Linked DNA regions of Homo sapiens: region 1 is linked to region 2. A link means that fine-mapping ties the variant in region 2 to the expression of a gene that starts in the linked region. Tissue or cell type: whole blood. Region 2 holds a variant in brackets; the other region holds the start of a gene. All regions are shown on one strand. Distances are between the middles of the regions.

Region 1 (8,000 bases), 25 kb before region 2:
CTTACCACCCCTGCCTAAACCTCCTCTTCCCACAACCTTCCCTATCTGAGTAAATTACAACTCCATTCTTCCAGATCAAAGGCCCAAAACCTCCTTTCCTCACACCTCACATTCAGTTACAAAAAAAAAAAAAAAAAAAATCCTACCATTTCTACCTAAAAAGGCAACAAGGAAAAAAAAATATGCCAGGTATTTCTCACTACCTTCACAACTATCACTTTGGCCCAAATCCCCATTCCTCATTCCGATTATTGTGGAAGCCTCCTAATTAATTGATCTCCCTGCTTCTTCTCTTGCCTCATTTGGTGTATGTGCAGCACTTAAGCTAGAGAGAGTAAACATGTCAGATCATGTCACTATGTTGTTCAAAACCTACCAGAGACCACCCATGTTAGAGTAAAAACCAAAATCTTTACAATGCTGTACAAAAAGAGGCTGGGCACAATGGCTCATGCCTATTATCCCTACTCTCTGGGAGGCCGAAGTGGGAGGATGCTTAAGCCCAGGAGTTTGAGACCAACCCAGGCAACATAATAAGACCCCATTTCTACAAAAACTAAAAAATTAGCCAGGTGTGTTGTTGCATGCCTGTAGTCCCAGCTACTCAGAGAAGCTGTGGCAGGAGGATCGCTTGAGCCCAGAAGTTAGAGGCTGCGGTGAGCTGTGATTCCACCACTGCACTCCAGCCTGGGTCTCTAAAAAAAAAAAAAAAGGCCAGGCATGTTGGTTTACGCCTGTAATCCCAACACTTTAGGAGGCCGAGGTAGACGGATCACCTGAGGTCAGGAGTTTGAGACCAGCCTGGCCAATATGGTGAAACCCCATCTCTACTAAAAATACAGAAATTAGCCGGGCATGGTGACAGGTGCCTGTAATCCCAGCTACTCGGGAGTCTGAGGGAAGAGAATCGCTTGAACCCAGGAGGCGGAGGTTGCAGTGAGCAGAGTTTATGCTACTGCACTCCAGCCTGGGCGACAGAGCGAGACTTATTCTCAAACAAACAAAATCCTACGTAGTCTTGTCTCCTGCTCCCCACTGCACCTCCTATTACCTCACCCTTCACCTACTCAGCTTCACTCGCACAAGCCTCCTGGTTCTTCCTAGAACATGTCAGATAGAATCCTTCTCTGGGCCTTTGTATCTATCCCTGGACCACTCTTCCTCCAAATATTTGCTTCTCCAGATATTTACATAGCCTACTGCCTCACTCTCCTCAAGGCTTTTACTCATATGAGGCTTTCCTTAGCCACTCTATCTAAAATTACAACATCTACTCAGCCTGCCTCCAGCATTCTCTACTTCCCTGCTCTGGTATTATCCATATTGCCATATTACATGTCACTAAATACTACATAGTTCACTTATTTGCTTATTGTCTGCCTTCTTTCACTAGAATGTATGTTCCATAATGGCAGGGATTTTTCCTTTATCACTGCTGTATCCTTAGCATATAGAACTGAATATCTGTTGAATGAATGAATGATGAATTGGTGGGAAAATAAGCAGGCCTTGCATGCTGTGAGTAGCTATCAGTGTTCTACAGAGAGAATGGAGAGCTTTGTTTAATCTGGTGAATCTATTGGGTGGATATAAAAATAAAAAATTGTTAAGTTTCTAGTTATTTATTTATTTATTATTTTTTGAGACAGAGTCTCACTCTGTCGCCCAGACTGGAGTGCAGTGGCATGATCTCGGCTCACTGCAACCTCCACCTCCTGGTTTCAAGCAATTCTCCTGCCTCAGCCTCCCGAGTAGCTGGGACTACAGGTGCACGCTACCACACTCAGCTAATTTTTATATTTTTAGTAGAGACAGGATTTCGCCATGTTGGCCAGGCTGGTCTCGAACTCCTGACCTCAAGTGATCCACCCGCTTCAGCCTCCCAAAGTGCTGGGATTACAGGCGTGAGACACCATGCTCAGCCAACTCACTTCTTTAAATCACAGAAATAAATATGTAATTATAAATTGATATGTATAGGGGCAGGGCACAGTGGCTCACACCTGTAATCCCAGCACTTTGCGAGGCCGAGGTGGGTGGATCACTTGAGGGCAGGAGTTCAAGACCAGCCTGGCCAACATGGTGAAACCCCATCTCCACTAAAAATACAAAAAGTAGCCAGGTGTGGTGGCACGCGCCTGTAATCCCAGCTACTTTTGAGTCAGGAGAATCGATTGAACTGGGGAAGCGGAGGTTGCAGTGAGCTGAGATCGTGCCACTGCACTCCAGCCTGGGCGACGGAGCGAGACTACATCTCCAAATAAATAAATAAATAAATAAATAAATAAATAAATAAATAAGCAAATAAATAGGAATATATATATATAGGGAAGAGAAAGGTGGGATGAAAGGTGAGGTGCAAGGTGGGGAGAAAGGTGGGATGCAAGGAAGCCTTCTCCGAGGAAGCAGCATTTAAGAAGAGATCGGGAGGATATGTTGAAGTTAGGTGAAGGGGAAAGTGGGAGAAAGGATTTCATGCAGGGAACAACTTATACAAAGGCCCTGCAGCCAGACTGCCCATAGAAAGTTTCATGAACTGAAGAAGGCCAAGGTGATGGCATCAAAGAGAGCAAGGGCACAAGCAAGACTACCAAGACCACCTATCACTATCCGTAGTTCGGTACATTTAAATAATTTTAATTACCAATTTTGAACTTTTCTGTAATCGAGGAATGAATGGCTTACCCTCCTTAGAAAAGTTTCCATCCTGAGTAAATACTGTGGGGATGGGACTGGGGAACAGAGTTATATTTGAGTAGAAGGCCTTTTGTGTGTACGGGTGTGAGAGAGAGAGAAACAGAGAGAGAGAGGGAGTTTCACTCTTGTTGCTCACGCTGGAGTGCAATGGCGCCATCTCAGCTCACAGCAACCTCAGCCTCCCGGGTTCAAGCGAAGTGGGTTCTTCAACCTCAGCCTCCCAGGTAGCTGGGATCACAGGCGCACGTCACCACGCCCGGCTAATTTTTTGCATTTTTAGTAGAGATAGAGTTTCACCATGTTGGCCAGGCTGGTCGCAAACTCCTGACCTCAGGTGATCCACCCGCCTTGGCCTCCCAAAGTGCTGGGATTACAGGCAGGAGCCACCGCGCCCGGCCTTTTTTTTTTTTTTTGGAGACAGAGTCTCATTTTGTCACCCAGACTGGAGTGCAGTGGGATGATCTCTGCTCACTGCAACCTCCGCCTCCTGGCTTCAAGTGATTCTCCTGCCTCAGCCTCCTGAGTAACTCAGATTACAGGTGTGTGCCTCCACACTAGGCTAATTTTTTGTATTTTTAGTAAAGACGGCCTTTTGCCATGTTGGTCAGGCTGGTCTTGAATTCCTGACCTCAAGTGATCCACCCGCCTCGGCCTCCCAAAGTGCGGGGATCACAGGCATGAGCCACCGCGCCCAGCCCAGAAGGCCTTTTCAACATCCCTGAAATATAACCTGAGCACCGCTGTCTGCTTAGGGCCTGAAGGTGGAAGTGGTTACCTTTATTCTTTATCTGGATGTCATTTCGATTTTTTTTTCAAGTGCAGTGAAGAATTAAAGATCTCGTCCACCAAAAATACTCCGAGTGTGCATTTCGGGTTTTAATATGGTATTGTCTGATGGGTTTGACAGGCTGGCGGTCCAAGTTGAAAAAGGTCTGTGGGTGTCTAATAGTCAAAGATGCCTTTATGAAGCTTTAGAAAGACCAGATATGGTTTGCCTTCAATTAAGAAAAAGGTGGAATATAAAGATATTTGTACTTATATAAATATATTCCTTCTTTTCTTCTCCTCCTCCTCCTCTGCCTTCAACTTTCTTCTTCTTCTTCTTCTTCTTCTTCTTCTTCTTCTTCTTCTTCTTCTTCTTCTTCTTCTTCTTCTTCTTCTTCTTCTTCTTCTTCTTCTTCTTCTTTTTTAACTCTCCTTTTAGAGTTAAAGACTGGAGCTAAGAACAGGGGAGCAATAGACAGATGAAGTGTTCCCGGATTGCTGCCCCACGCTCTTTGTAATAAAGGAAAACTTGGCCAAAGGTCAATGCTTAGGGTAGTAGAAGATATGTAGTGGCTTGGCTTCTTGACTGGAAACTAGGACGGGTAGAGTAGCTGAGAGAAGTGGGCCCCAGAGCAAACTGGTTGCGGGTAGGGGGAGCCAGCTTCAGCCCGGTAATGAAGCCCATTTCAGCCTCATTCCTTTCCCATGGCGGAGGCAGCCTTCCTTCCCCAGGCCTGGCTGGAGGTGGAGGCAGGCCCAAAGTTAGGGGGTCAGCTCGCGCACCTAGGGCCGGGAGACAGACAAATTCTGGCGGAAAGTTGGCAGCCACGGTCCCCCTCCCCTGCTTTTCTCCTCAACTCTCCACCCCCACTCCGGGTGATAACGGCGGAGGTGGGGGGTTGGGGGAACTGGCCTTGTGTTTTGGAACAGCTGCAGCCGGCGCTGGGCCCGCCTGGAATGCGGGAACAGGCTGCACACCAGGACTTTTATGGAAACTTGCTGCTGGAGACGGCGGCGGCGGCGGCGGCAGCGGCAGCCAGAGGACTCCCAGCGGCTGGAGCAGAAGTGTTAGCGGCCAGAGCTCCCAGACCCCTACCCACAGCCAGGCGGGACGCGCACAGTCCCTCCACGCGGAAAGAAGTACCTTCGCCGGTCACCGGCTCCTGCAGGGTGAGAAGAGTTGGGGGAACGTGGGCTGGGGGGAGTGGAGACGGAGGTGTCGGGTCCCCTGGTGGGGGCGGGGGCGGGAACGGCGGCTGCAGAGAGGCGCTCGGGGTCTGCGGCTTCTGGCCGTGCTCCGCTGCAGCTCCGGAGGGCGCCGGGCGCCATACAGCTGTGGTCCGCGCTGGCCCCGGCCCGGGCGAACCCTGCCTTGGAGCCGCATCCTGCGGGCTCGGCGGGGTGCCTACCAGGGGCTGCCCCAGGGTCTGAAAGTGTCGGCCGGCCTTGGGCTTCTGGTTGCAATGTCTTTGCCCTGCTCCCCTGCGCCTTGTCGGCTGAGTTTCGGGTGCGTTCCCTACTGTAGGGAGGGAGCCCTCTGTGAGCGGAGTGGGTGCCGATCCCTCGGCTGAACCCTTGGGGTCCTTAGGGAAGTTCAGTGCCGTCCCCCACCACTTGCCCCAGCCGCGGTCTCCGTCTCTGCCAGCAGTGCCAGTTAAGAAATCCTTTCTGATCGGTCTCTGTGGAAGATGGGGAGAAATATGATTTAACAGCCTATTACTCCCCCCCCACACCCCCGCATATCCCCCCACTCCTGTCTCCAACCCTTTTTTTTTTTTTTTTCGTGATTCTGCCCGAGGTGGGATGCTGGGGGTTGAGCAACTAGGGCTGGAAGTTTACGAAGTTTACGTAGTTTAAGTGAGTGAAGAATGTAGTCACCTCTTGAGAACTCCCTTTGCCTATATGCTTTTGAAAACGCCAAACCATTCCAGCTGTTTGTAAATTGTGAAACGTTCTACAAATGCATTAGCATTGGCATTTATAAAGAAAATGACGAAGTTGAGAGGTTATAGTTGGTTACTGCAGTGACTTAGAGATGCTCATTTTATAGTTATTAAAGCACAACGTGAACCAAGTTGGCAGAGAGATAACAAGGTAAAAATAGCATAAGGATATGTCCTAACAAAATGTCCTTGGTGAAGACACAGGTAGAGAAAAGAAGCCATAATAAAGAAATTAGTTCCCTGACCAAAACAACGGGAATATCATTCATCGTTAAATTTTGTTAATGAATTCATGTAGCAGCGGCCCATTGGCCTTCGAGTCACAACATAACTATGTCTTAGGTAATGTGATTAAATAAACTTAAGTATTTATACTTAAGTTCATATCTTAGTCACACGTTATTTATATCTTAGTCACACGTTATTGAGTGGACCACATAATTTCCCCCGCTAAACATTATCCTTTACAGGTTAAACTGCTGCAGTTAGAAAACTTTGTCTCAAATTCTTTTGAGTTTGGGGTATTGTTAAGAAAAAATGCATAATTAATCAAATGAGAGAAAGGTTTTTTGGGGGGAGGTATAATTTGTATAAGTAAACTTTGATTAACCAATGTAGCTGTTTAAGTTTCTTCTTCCTTACAATTAACACCGTATTTTTGCAGATATTTTATATTTTGACTAATGCTTCTGAGGAACAATTTAAAGAAAAATGCATGCAATTATGTAGTTTATCTGCAATTCCCTTAAAGAATTCTAAGCTAAAACCACAACAAAATTATTTTAAATCCAGTTTTCCTCATCATAGTTACAATGTAATCCAGTTTTAATAAAAGATTCATATTTTAAAATCCATTTTCAATTGAAATGTAATGAATAGCAATTGTTCCTGCTCACCTTAAAATGGAATTTGTGCTATTTTTGAAAATTTGACATGTAAGGCTGATCATTGTCAAAATGTATGTCATCTTGAGATGACTATATTTAGCATCAACAAAGGAATGCATTATCTAGGTTTTTGAACAGTCTTTTTCCCCTGAAATTTCACTTGAAGTATTTAGGTTAGGGTTTCATTTTTGAGCAGAATAAAAACTAAATATGCATATTTGGAAGACATTAATTGGGGATTCAGATTGCTTAGAATCTGAGCGGCCTATAATGACATACTTCATTTATTAAAAAAAATACCTGTTATCTTTGAAATACCCTAAAAGACAAAAAAAAGGGGGATTATTTAAATATGAGAGTTGTGCACACCTAAAAGAAAGAAAATAATGCAGTGAATGTGGAAAAGTATGTAACAGACAGGTAAAAGTCTAAACGTTTTTATAGAAGAGAGGACTGTTATTTTATAGTTATGTAGGCCACACACACACAGAACATCTTGGTAGTTTATAATTTGGAGAGAAAATGATTTATAACATTCTTAACAATTTCACATATTTCTGTTCTTATTTAATCAATCTGCGGTCCATATCACCTGTGTAGTTTCTTTCATGTTCTCTTTCTGGGTTTATAATTGCATAGTTACATATTATATACATTTGAAATGGCTACATTTTCCTTTATTATTTAAATATTCAGTGTATAGTTTGGCTTAATTTATAGTAGTTTACTTTCTATACTCCAGGGTGGGTGGATTTGTACCCAGAAATCCACCTTAAATTTTAGTTTAATTTGTATTATAATGTTAATACACCATGTTATATTTATGGTTAAAAATTATGGAGAATGGAAAAAGGGGCTCTTGTAATCTGACACTCTTACTGTTAGGATTTTGATGTATTTCCTTTAAGTCTTTTTCCCATGCATAGAACTCTTTCTTTTTGCATTGACATATCTCAATAAAACAACATGTGAAAGCATCCCATGCAGTGTCTGCCATCCAGTAAGTGCTCAACAGGTGATTCTTTTTCTTCCTCCTTTATTTCCTTCTTGACATCTCTTCCTTTTTACTCTTAGATTAGAAGACAAGCAGATTGGGGCTCCCTATATGAGGTTTCAAGGTTGGTGAAATTCACTTCTCACCGTCCATCCTGGGCCTCTTCCCTGTCTTTTCTTCCCCTTCACTCTTTCTGGCCAAAATAGGCCTCCCCTTTGACCCTTTCCATTTTGTCAGTGTTGTCTATTCATTTAGACTAAGGCTATGGCAGTCAAAAAGTCGACAGTCAAAAAGACACCTTTTACTTCCTGATTACCAAGTGTGGAAAAAAAGTAAAAAAAAAAAAAAAAAAAAAAATCAAAAACAAAAAAGACACTTTTGGGGCTGGGTGTGGTGGCTCATGCCTGTAATCCAAGCACTTTGGGAGGCTGAGGCGAGAGGATCCCTTGAGCCCAGGAGTTCAGGACCAGGCCTGGCAACATAGTGAGACCCACCCCCATCTCTACAAAAAATTTAAAAATTAGCCAGATGTGGTGGTGCATGCCTGTAGTCCCAACTACCTGGGAGGCCGAGGCAGGAGGATTGCTTGAGCTCAGGAGGCTGAGGCTGCAGTGCACCGTGCTTGTACCACTGCACTCCAGCCTAAGCAACAGAGTGAGGCTCTGTGTCAAAAAAAAAAAAGACACTTTTAGCCACAGACATACTTAAAAATTG
Region 2 (8,286 bases):
CATGAGCCACCACAATTGTGTAAGTAATACATTATATATGCTCACTGGCAGGGAAAGATAGGTTTTTTCCTAAATAGAGTAAATTCTAGTAGGGGAGATGAATAGTAATAAAATTAATCAAAGTTATTGATATCTACTAATGTTAGTTATTATTCCAGGGTTCTTCATATAATGCTCTCAGCTAATCCTAACTAAGCAGTTAACAGATTTGAAATTTGGATTTAGGTCTGATTACCAAATTTTGGTAATCTAAATGTGAGGTGATTGAAGGTCTGTATTAGTATGGAGGCCGTGGAAATATGAAGTAATATGTAAGAGAAGTTTGAAAGCAACATTCATAAATCTTGACAATCTATTAAAATCTAGGAGATATAGAAGAATGAATCAAAAATAACTGCAAGGTTTGAGAAGCCATGAGAATGAAGGGTAGGTTTTGTTGGTTATATAAGAAGAAATATCAGGCCAGGCATGGTGGCTCATGCCTGTAATCCCAAAACTTTGGGAGGCGAAGGCGGGTGGATCACTTGAAGTCAGGAGTTCAAGACCAGCCTAATCAACATGGTGAAACCCTGTCTCTACTAAAAATACAAAATTAGCTGGGCGTAGTGGGGCATGCCTGTAATCCCAGCTACTTGGGAGGCTGAGGCAGAAGAATCGCTTGAACCCGGGAGACAGAAGTTGCAATGAGCCAAGATCACACCATTGCACTCCAGCCTGGGCAACAAGGGCAAAACTTCATCTCAATAAATAAATAAATAAATAAATTAATAAAATATCTAACAGGTAACTTTAGATATGATATAATGGCTCAAGTAAGACAACAGGACTAGTGCTATTTATTATTTTTATCTCAGGCACATAAAATTAGGTTACTCATAAACCTTAGTTCATGACACACTCATGTATAGATGGATTCCTTTAATTTACTCCTTTATTTTTAATAATGTCATAAGCACCGACAGACCCACTAAACAAGAAAAGTTAGGATCTTATTAATAATTACAGGGAATCATGTCCCATCCTCTCCCCCATTATATTGTCTCCTTCCCATAAAGAAAACTTCAGTCCCACATGGCTTCACTGGGGAGTTCTTGCAAATATTTAGGGAAAAAATAATACTAAATCCTACATGAACTCTTCCAGAAAACTAAAGAAATAATTCCCAACTCATTCTATAAAGACAATATTACTCTGTTAATAAAAGCGGACATCACAAGAAAAGATAACTTACACAACCAATAATTTATCATAAATACAGATACAAAACTTAACAAAATTTTATCAAATTGATTCCAGCAATATATTAAGAGGATAATGCATTATAACCAATTGGGAATTATCCTAGGAATGTTAAGGTTGATTTAACACTTGAAAATCAGTTAATGTAACTCACAATATTAATAAATTAAAAATGAAAGCCATATGATTATCTCAATAGACACAGAAAAAGCATTAGATAAAATCCAACATCTGTTACTGATAATTACTCCAGTAAACTTAGTCTGATAAACGGCATCTAAGAAAAGCCTACAGCTAACATCTTACTTAACAGTGAAAGACTGGACATATTTCTCCTAAGATCAGGAACAAGACAAAGATATCTGCTCTTACCACTTCTATCTAACATTGTACTGGAGGTTCTAGCTAGTACAGTAAAGCCAGAAAAAGAAATGAAAGGCATCCAGACTGGAAAGGAAAAAGTAGAACTGTGCTCACCGATGATGTGATCATCTATGTATGTAGAAAATCTGATGGAATCTATGAAAAAGCCAATAGAACTAATAAGTTATTAGGCTGGGCTCGGTGGCTAACGCCTGTAATCCCAGCATTTTGGGAGGCCAAGGCAGGCGGATCACGAGGTCAGGACTTCGAGATCAGCCTGGCCAACATAGTGAAACCCTGTCTCTACTAAAAATACAAAAATTAGCTGGGTGTCGTCGGTCGCGCCTGTAGTCCCAGCTACTCGGGAGGCTGAGGCAGTAGAATCACTTGAACCCGAGAGGTGGAGGTTGCAGTGAGCTGAGACTGTGCCATTGCACTCCAGCCTGGGTGACAGAGTGAGACTGTCTCAAAAAAAAAAAAAAAAAAAAAAACTAATAAGTTATTTTAGCAGGGTTGCAAGATATAAAACCAGAATACAAAAACTGTATTTTTTAATTTTAATTTTTTTTCTTTTAGAAATAGGGACTCACTCTGTCACCCAGGCTGGAGTATGGTGATATGATCATAGCTTACAGTAACTTTGAGTTCCTGGGCTCAAGAGATCCTCCTGCCTCTGTTTCCCAAGTGGCCAAAACTACAGACACACACCACCAGGCCTGGCTAATTTTTAAATTTTTTGTAGAGATGGGGTCTACTATGTTGCCCAGGTTGTTCTTGAACTCCTGGCCTCAAGCAACCCCCCTGCCTCAGCCTTCCAAAGTGTTGGTTTGGATTAAAGGAATGAGATACAGCGCCTGGCCCCAAAATTATACTTCTGTATGCAGGTTGAATATCCCTAATCTGAAAATCTAAAATCCAAATGCTCCAAAATCTGAAACCTTTGGAGTACTGACATGACGTCACAAGTGGAAAATTCCACACTTGGCCTCATGTGACAGATCAGTCAAAACATAGTCAAAACTTTGCTTTGGCCGGGCAAAATGGCTCACGCCTGTAATCCCAACACTTTCAGAGGCCAAGACAGGTGGATTACCTGAGGTCAGGAGTTCGAGACCAGCCTGGCCAACATGGTGAAACCCTGTCTCTACTAAAAATACAAAAATTAGCCAGGCATAGTGGCGGACACCTGTAATCCCAGCTACTTGGGAGGCTGAGGCAGGAGAATCGCTTGAACCCAGGAGGTGGAGGTTGCAGTGAGCCGAGATTGCACCATTGCACTCCAGCCTGGGCGACAAGAGCAAGACTCCATCTCAAAAACAAAACAAAACAACTTTGCTTCATGCAAAAGTTATTTAAAATATTCTATAAAACTACCTTCAGGCTATATGTATAAGGTGTATATGGAACATAAATGAATTTCATGTTTAGACTTGGGTCCTATCCCCAAGATAGCCTGTT[TTATA/T]TATATATATATATATATACACATATATTCCAAAATCCAAAAAAGATCTGAAATCTGAGGCCAGGCACGGTGGCTCATGCTTGTAATCCCAGCACTTTGGGAGGCTGAGGCAGGCGGATCACAAGGCAGGAGTTGAGACCAGCCTGACCAACATGGTGAAACCCCGTCTCTACTAAAAATACAAAAATTAGCTGGATGTGGTGGCACGCACCTGTAGTCCCAGCTACTCAGGAGGCTGAGGCAGGAGAATTGCTTGAACCCGGGAGGCAGAGGTTGCAGTGAGCCGAGATTGCACCATTGCACTCCAGTCTGGGCGACAGAGTGAGACTCTGTCTCAAAAAAAAAAAAAAAAATCTGAAATCTGAAACATTTCTAGTCCCAAGCATTTCAGATAAGGGATACTCAACATGTACTAGCAACAATCATTAATTTAAATCTAAAAAACAACACCATTTACAGTAGTATAAACAACTATGAAATTATTTAGGGATAACTGACAAAAGATGTGGAAGATCTGCACATTGAAAACTACAAAACATTTCTGAGAAATTATAGAATATGTATATAATGGGGGGGACATACTGTGTTCATGGATCAGAAGACTTAACATTATTAAGATATTAATTCTCCCTAGATCCATCTACAGATTCAATGCAATCCCAATCAAAATCCCAGCATATTATTTTGTGGATATTGACAAACTGATTCTAAAGTTTATATGAAAAGGGAAAAGACTTGGAATAGCCAACACAGTGTTGAAGGAGAAGAACAAAGCTGGAGGACTAACACTACTCAACTTTAAGACATACTATAAACCTACAGTAATTGATACAGTGCAGTGTTGGTGAAATAATAAACAAAAAGATCAATGAAACCGAATAGAGAGCCCAGAAATAGATCCACGTAAATATAATCAACTGATCTTTGACAAAGGAGCAAAGGCAATAAAATAGAGAAAAGATTATTTTCAACAAATGGTGCTGGAACAACTGGACATCCACTTGCAAAAAACTGAATCTAGAAATAGACCTTACATTCTTCACAAAAATTAACTCAAAATGAATCACAGACTTACAGCATAGAACTATAAAACTCCTAGAAGAAAACATAGACAGAAATCTAGATGACCTCAGATTTGGAGTTCACTTTTTAGCTATGATACCAAAGTCACAATTCATGAAAGAAAGAATTGATAAGCTGGACTTCATTAAAATTAAAAAATTCTGTTCTGCAAAAGACACTGTGAAAAGAATTAAAAAATAAGCCATAGACTTGGAGAAAATATTTGCAAGTGACATATCAGATAAAGGACTGTTATCCAAAATACACAAAGAACTCTTACAACTCTGTAATAAGAATACAAACAACCCAATTAAAAAATGGACCAAAGGGCTGGGGACAGTGGCTCACGCCTGCAATCCCAGCACTTTGGGAGGCCGAGGTGGGCGGATCACCTGAGGTCAGGAGTTTGAGACCAGCCTGACCAATATAGCGAAACCCCATCTCTACTACAAATACAAAAATTAGCCGGGTGTGGTGGCAGGTGCCTGTAGTCCCAGCTGCTCGGGAGGCTGAGACAGGAGAATTGCTTGAACCCGGGAGGCGGAGGTTGCAGTGAGCCGAGATCATGCCACTGCTCTCTAGCCTGGGTGACAGTGCAAGACTCCATCTCAAAAAAAAAAAAATGGACCAAACAAAGATCTTAGGAGACATCTCACTGAAGAAGATACAGATGGCAAATAAACATATGAAAAGGTGCTTTAATATATTATTTAATATAATTCTAATTTAATATTTATTCATTTAATATATATTCAAGGAAATGCAAATAAAAATGACAATGAAATACCACTCCACATCTATTAGAATGGCCAAAATTCAGAACACTGACAACATCAAATGCAGGTGAGGATATGGAGCAATATGAACTCTCATTCATTGCTGGTGGGAATGCAAAGTGGTAAGCTACATGGTGGTTTCTTATAATACTAAATATGCTCTTACCATATAATCCAGTAATCATGGTCCACAAGAACCTGCATACAGATATTTATGTCAACTTTATTCATAAACACCAAAACTTGGAAACAACCAAGATGTCATTTGGTAGGTGAATGGATAAACTGTGGTACATGCAGGTAATAGAATATTATTCAGTGCTAAAAAGAAATGAGCTATCAAGCCATGAAAAACATAGAGGAAACTGAAATGCACATAACTATGTGAAAAAAGTCAATATGAAAAGGCTACATACTGTGTGGTTCCAACTGTATGACATTCTGGAAAAGTCAAAACTATGAAGACAGTAAAAAGATCATGGTTACCAGGAATTATGGGGGAGAAAAGCATAAGTAAGTGGAGTAAAGAGGACTTTTAGGTCAGTGAAACTGCTCTGTGCAATACTGTAATGATGGACACATGTCATTGTACATTTACCCAAAACCCACAGAATGTACAACTCAGGAGTAAACCCTAATGTAAACTATGGACTCTGGGTGATAATGATGTGTCAGTATAGGTTCATCATTTATAACAAATGTACCACTCCAATAGGTGGTAATAATGGGGTTATCCAGTGTTGATAATGGGGGTGACTAAGCATGTGCAGGGACAGAACATATACAGGAAATCTCTATCTTCTACTCAATTTTGCTGTGAACCTAAAATAAACTCTATTAAAAAAAAAGTTGGCTAGAAAATTCCAAAAGAAAAAAACAAAACAAGATAAAACAAACCTAAAATAAATATTTAAATGATAGGCCTAAACTCATTGATATTAATAATTACATTAAATGTTAATGAACTAAATGCTGCAATTAAAAAAACAGATTTTAGGCCTGGCACGGTGGCTCACGCCTGTAATCCCAGCACTTTGGGAGGCCTAGGTGGGTGGATCACAAGGTCAGGAGTTCGAGACCAGCCTAGCCAACATGGTGAAACCCCATCTCTACTAAAAATACAAAAATTAGCTGGGTGTGGTGGTGGGAGCCTGTAATCCCAGCTACTCAGGAGGCTGAGGCAGGAGAATCGCTTGAAACTGGAAGGCGGAGGTTGCAGTGAGCCGAGATCATGCCACTGCACTCCAGCCTGGGCAACAAGAGCGAAACTACGTCTCAAAAAAAAAAAAAAAGAAAACCCAGATTTTATCAGAATTGATTTTTGTAAAAAGCAAGGTCCAAACATATGCTGTGTCCAAGACATATGCTTTACATATAAAAACATAGATAGAGTGAAAGTAAATAGCTAGAAAATTATATACCATGCAAACTGTAAACCTAAGAAAGTTGGGGGCCAGATGCAGTGGCTCACGGATGCAATCCTAGCACTTCTGGAGGCCAAGGTGGGAGAGTTGCTTGAGCCCAGGGTTTCAAAACCAGTCTAAACAACACAGTGAGACCCCATTTCTATAGAGAAAAAAAAAAGAGCTGGGCATAGTGCTGCATGCCTGTAGTCCCAGCTACTTGGGAGGCTGAGGAAGGAGGATCGCTTGAGCCCAGGAGTTCAAGGGTACAGTGAACTGTCATTGTGCCACTGTACTTCAGCCTGGGTGACACAGCGAGATGCTGTCTCTAAAAAATAAATGTATAAATAAAAAGAAAGCTGGTGGCCGGGCATGGTGGCTCATGCCTGTAATCCCAGCACTTTGGGAGGCCGAGGCAGGCGGATCACGAGGTCAGGAGATTGAGACCATCCTGGCTAACACGGTGAAACCCCGTCTCTACTAAAAATACAAAAAATTAGCCGGACGTGGCGGCACACGCCTGTAGTCCCAGCTACTCGGGAGGCTGAAGTGGGAGAATGGTGTGAACCCGGGAGGCAGAGCTTGCAGTGAGCGAGATGGCGCCACTGCACTCCAGCCTGGGCGACAGAGTGAGATTTCATCTCAAAACAAAAACAAAAACAAAACAAAACAAAACAAGCAAACAAAAAACTACATAGTTGAAGATTGATAGAAATAGCCAAAAATTAGTAAAAATACAGATCTAAAACATGATCAACTACCTTCAGCTAGTTAATATTTATAGAGTAATACACTCAGTAATTGCTGAATACACATTCTTTTCAAGTGAACTTAGTATGTTCATCAAGCTATTCTGGATCAAAAACTTTCAGGGATCTTTTACCATCATGCACCTTATGTTTTCTATACCATGAATCTTGGGAAAAAGAGCTAAAGGTTATCACAATTTATTACTTGCTTGAATCATGTCAGTATTTTTTGAGGGGCAATTAACTGCTATTTCTATTTATAAAAATACATAATATATTACAAATAAATTAAAATTTATTATACAATATAAATTTTTTTCAGGTGCAAATATATACAGAGCTTCATAATCAGCCCAAGACCACATAGAGCAAACATGAATGATATTTCCCAAAAGGCTGAGGTAAGTCTCAAAAGTAAAAATAAAAATAAAAGAGGGAAATGTAGAGTTGACTGTAGAATTGCTGAAAGGACAGTCATTTGGTGGAAAGGTCATATTTAGGAGTTCATAATTAATAACATAATGGCAAGATGTAAAACAAGAAGAGATACAATTCACCAGCTGGTCTTGGGCTAGTATTTTCATTTGGGTTCTAGGAAATTCTACAAAGCATGAGTAGTAAATTTGTGAATGATAGTGAAGTGGATGTGATAGCTAGCATTCTGAGTAGAATTTTAAATATTTTGTTCTTGATAACTCTTAGAAATTATTATTTTAGTATTAAAACAAAGTTTGACCTATACTCATAGGAGAAAACATAATTCCCTCTTAGGTAAGGAACCTTTTTAGTGCCTTATATATATATTTTAATTTTTAGCTTTCTTCTGGTTCTTGACTGTAGATACTGAGAGTTGTAAGAAGAGCTCAGTTGCTGACACCTCAGAATTATAAAGTTAACCCTTAAATGGCCAATGACACATAATAGATTATAAAATACAAGTTGGATGTGCCACAAATTAATTAAGTAATTGTCATTATCACTAGGAAAAAGGATTTGGTGTTCTGAGGCACACATTTTATTTACTGAAATTTCATTTAGAAATCAGCTTAATTTTCAAAGTGGTGAAAATAATTTGCTCTTCTGGTTTTAGAGTGGAGGAAAATCATTTCTTCAGTCTTCTACCAGATTCCCATTCTTTGTGAAGCTGTTGCCATATGGAATTCCTCTTACAGCCCGCCCCCATATAGAATGATATAGCCTTCTTACACATTTTTAATGTGGCTTAAAGAAGT

Evidence for each region. PIP is the estimated chance that this variant, and not a neighbour inherited with it, causes the effect.
Region 1: NEXN starts here. The variant in region 2 is fine-mapped to the expression of NEXN in whole blood (INTERVAL, PIP above 0.99).

What each region holds. Positions count from the first base shown.
Region 1 is chr1:77,884,128-77,892,127 of GRCh38, forward strand. NEXN (nexilin F-actin binding protein) reads left to right here and starts at 4,497. Exons shown (of 13, transcript NM_144573.4): 1 at 4,497-4,632. It overlaps NEXN-AS1 (NEXN antisense RNA 1), which reads right to left and starts at 5,412. Exons shown (of 3, transcript NR_103535.1): 1 at 5,341-5,412; 2 at 3,473-5,141. RefSeq lists an enhancer at 4,442-4,501 and a silencer at 4,742-4,881.
Region 2 is chr1:77,908,679-77,916,964 of GRCh38, forward strand. It overlaps NEXN (nexilin F-actin binding protein), which reads left to right. Exons shown (of 13, transcript NM_144573.4): 2 at 7,377-7,455. The coding sequence starts at 7,429. Among named protein-coding and RNA genes, the nearest start is that of NEXN-AS1, 23 kb to the left of the region's middle. RefSeq lists a silencer at 615-768. The variant TTATA/T (reference allele first, on the strand shown) is at 3,061.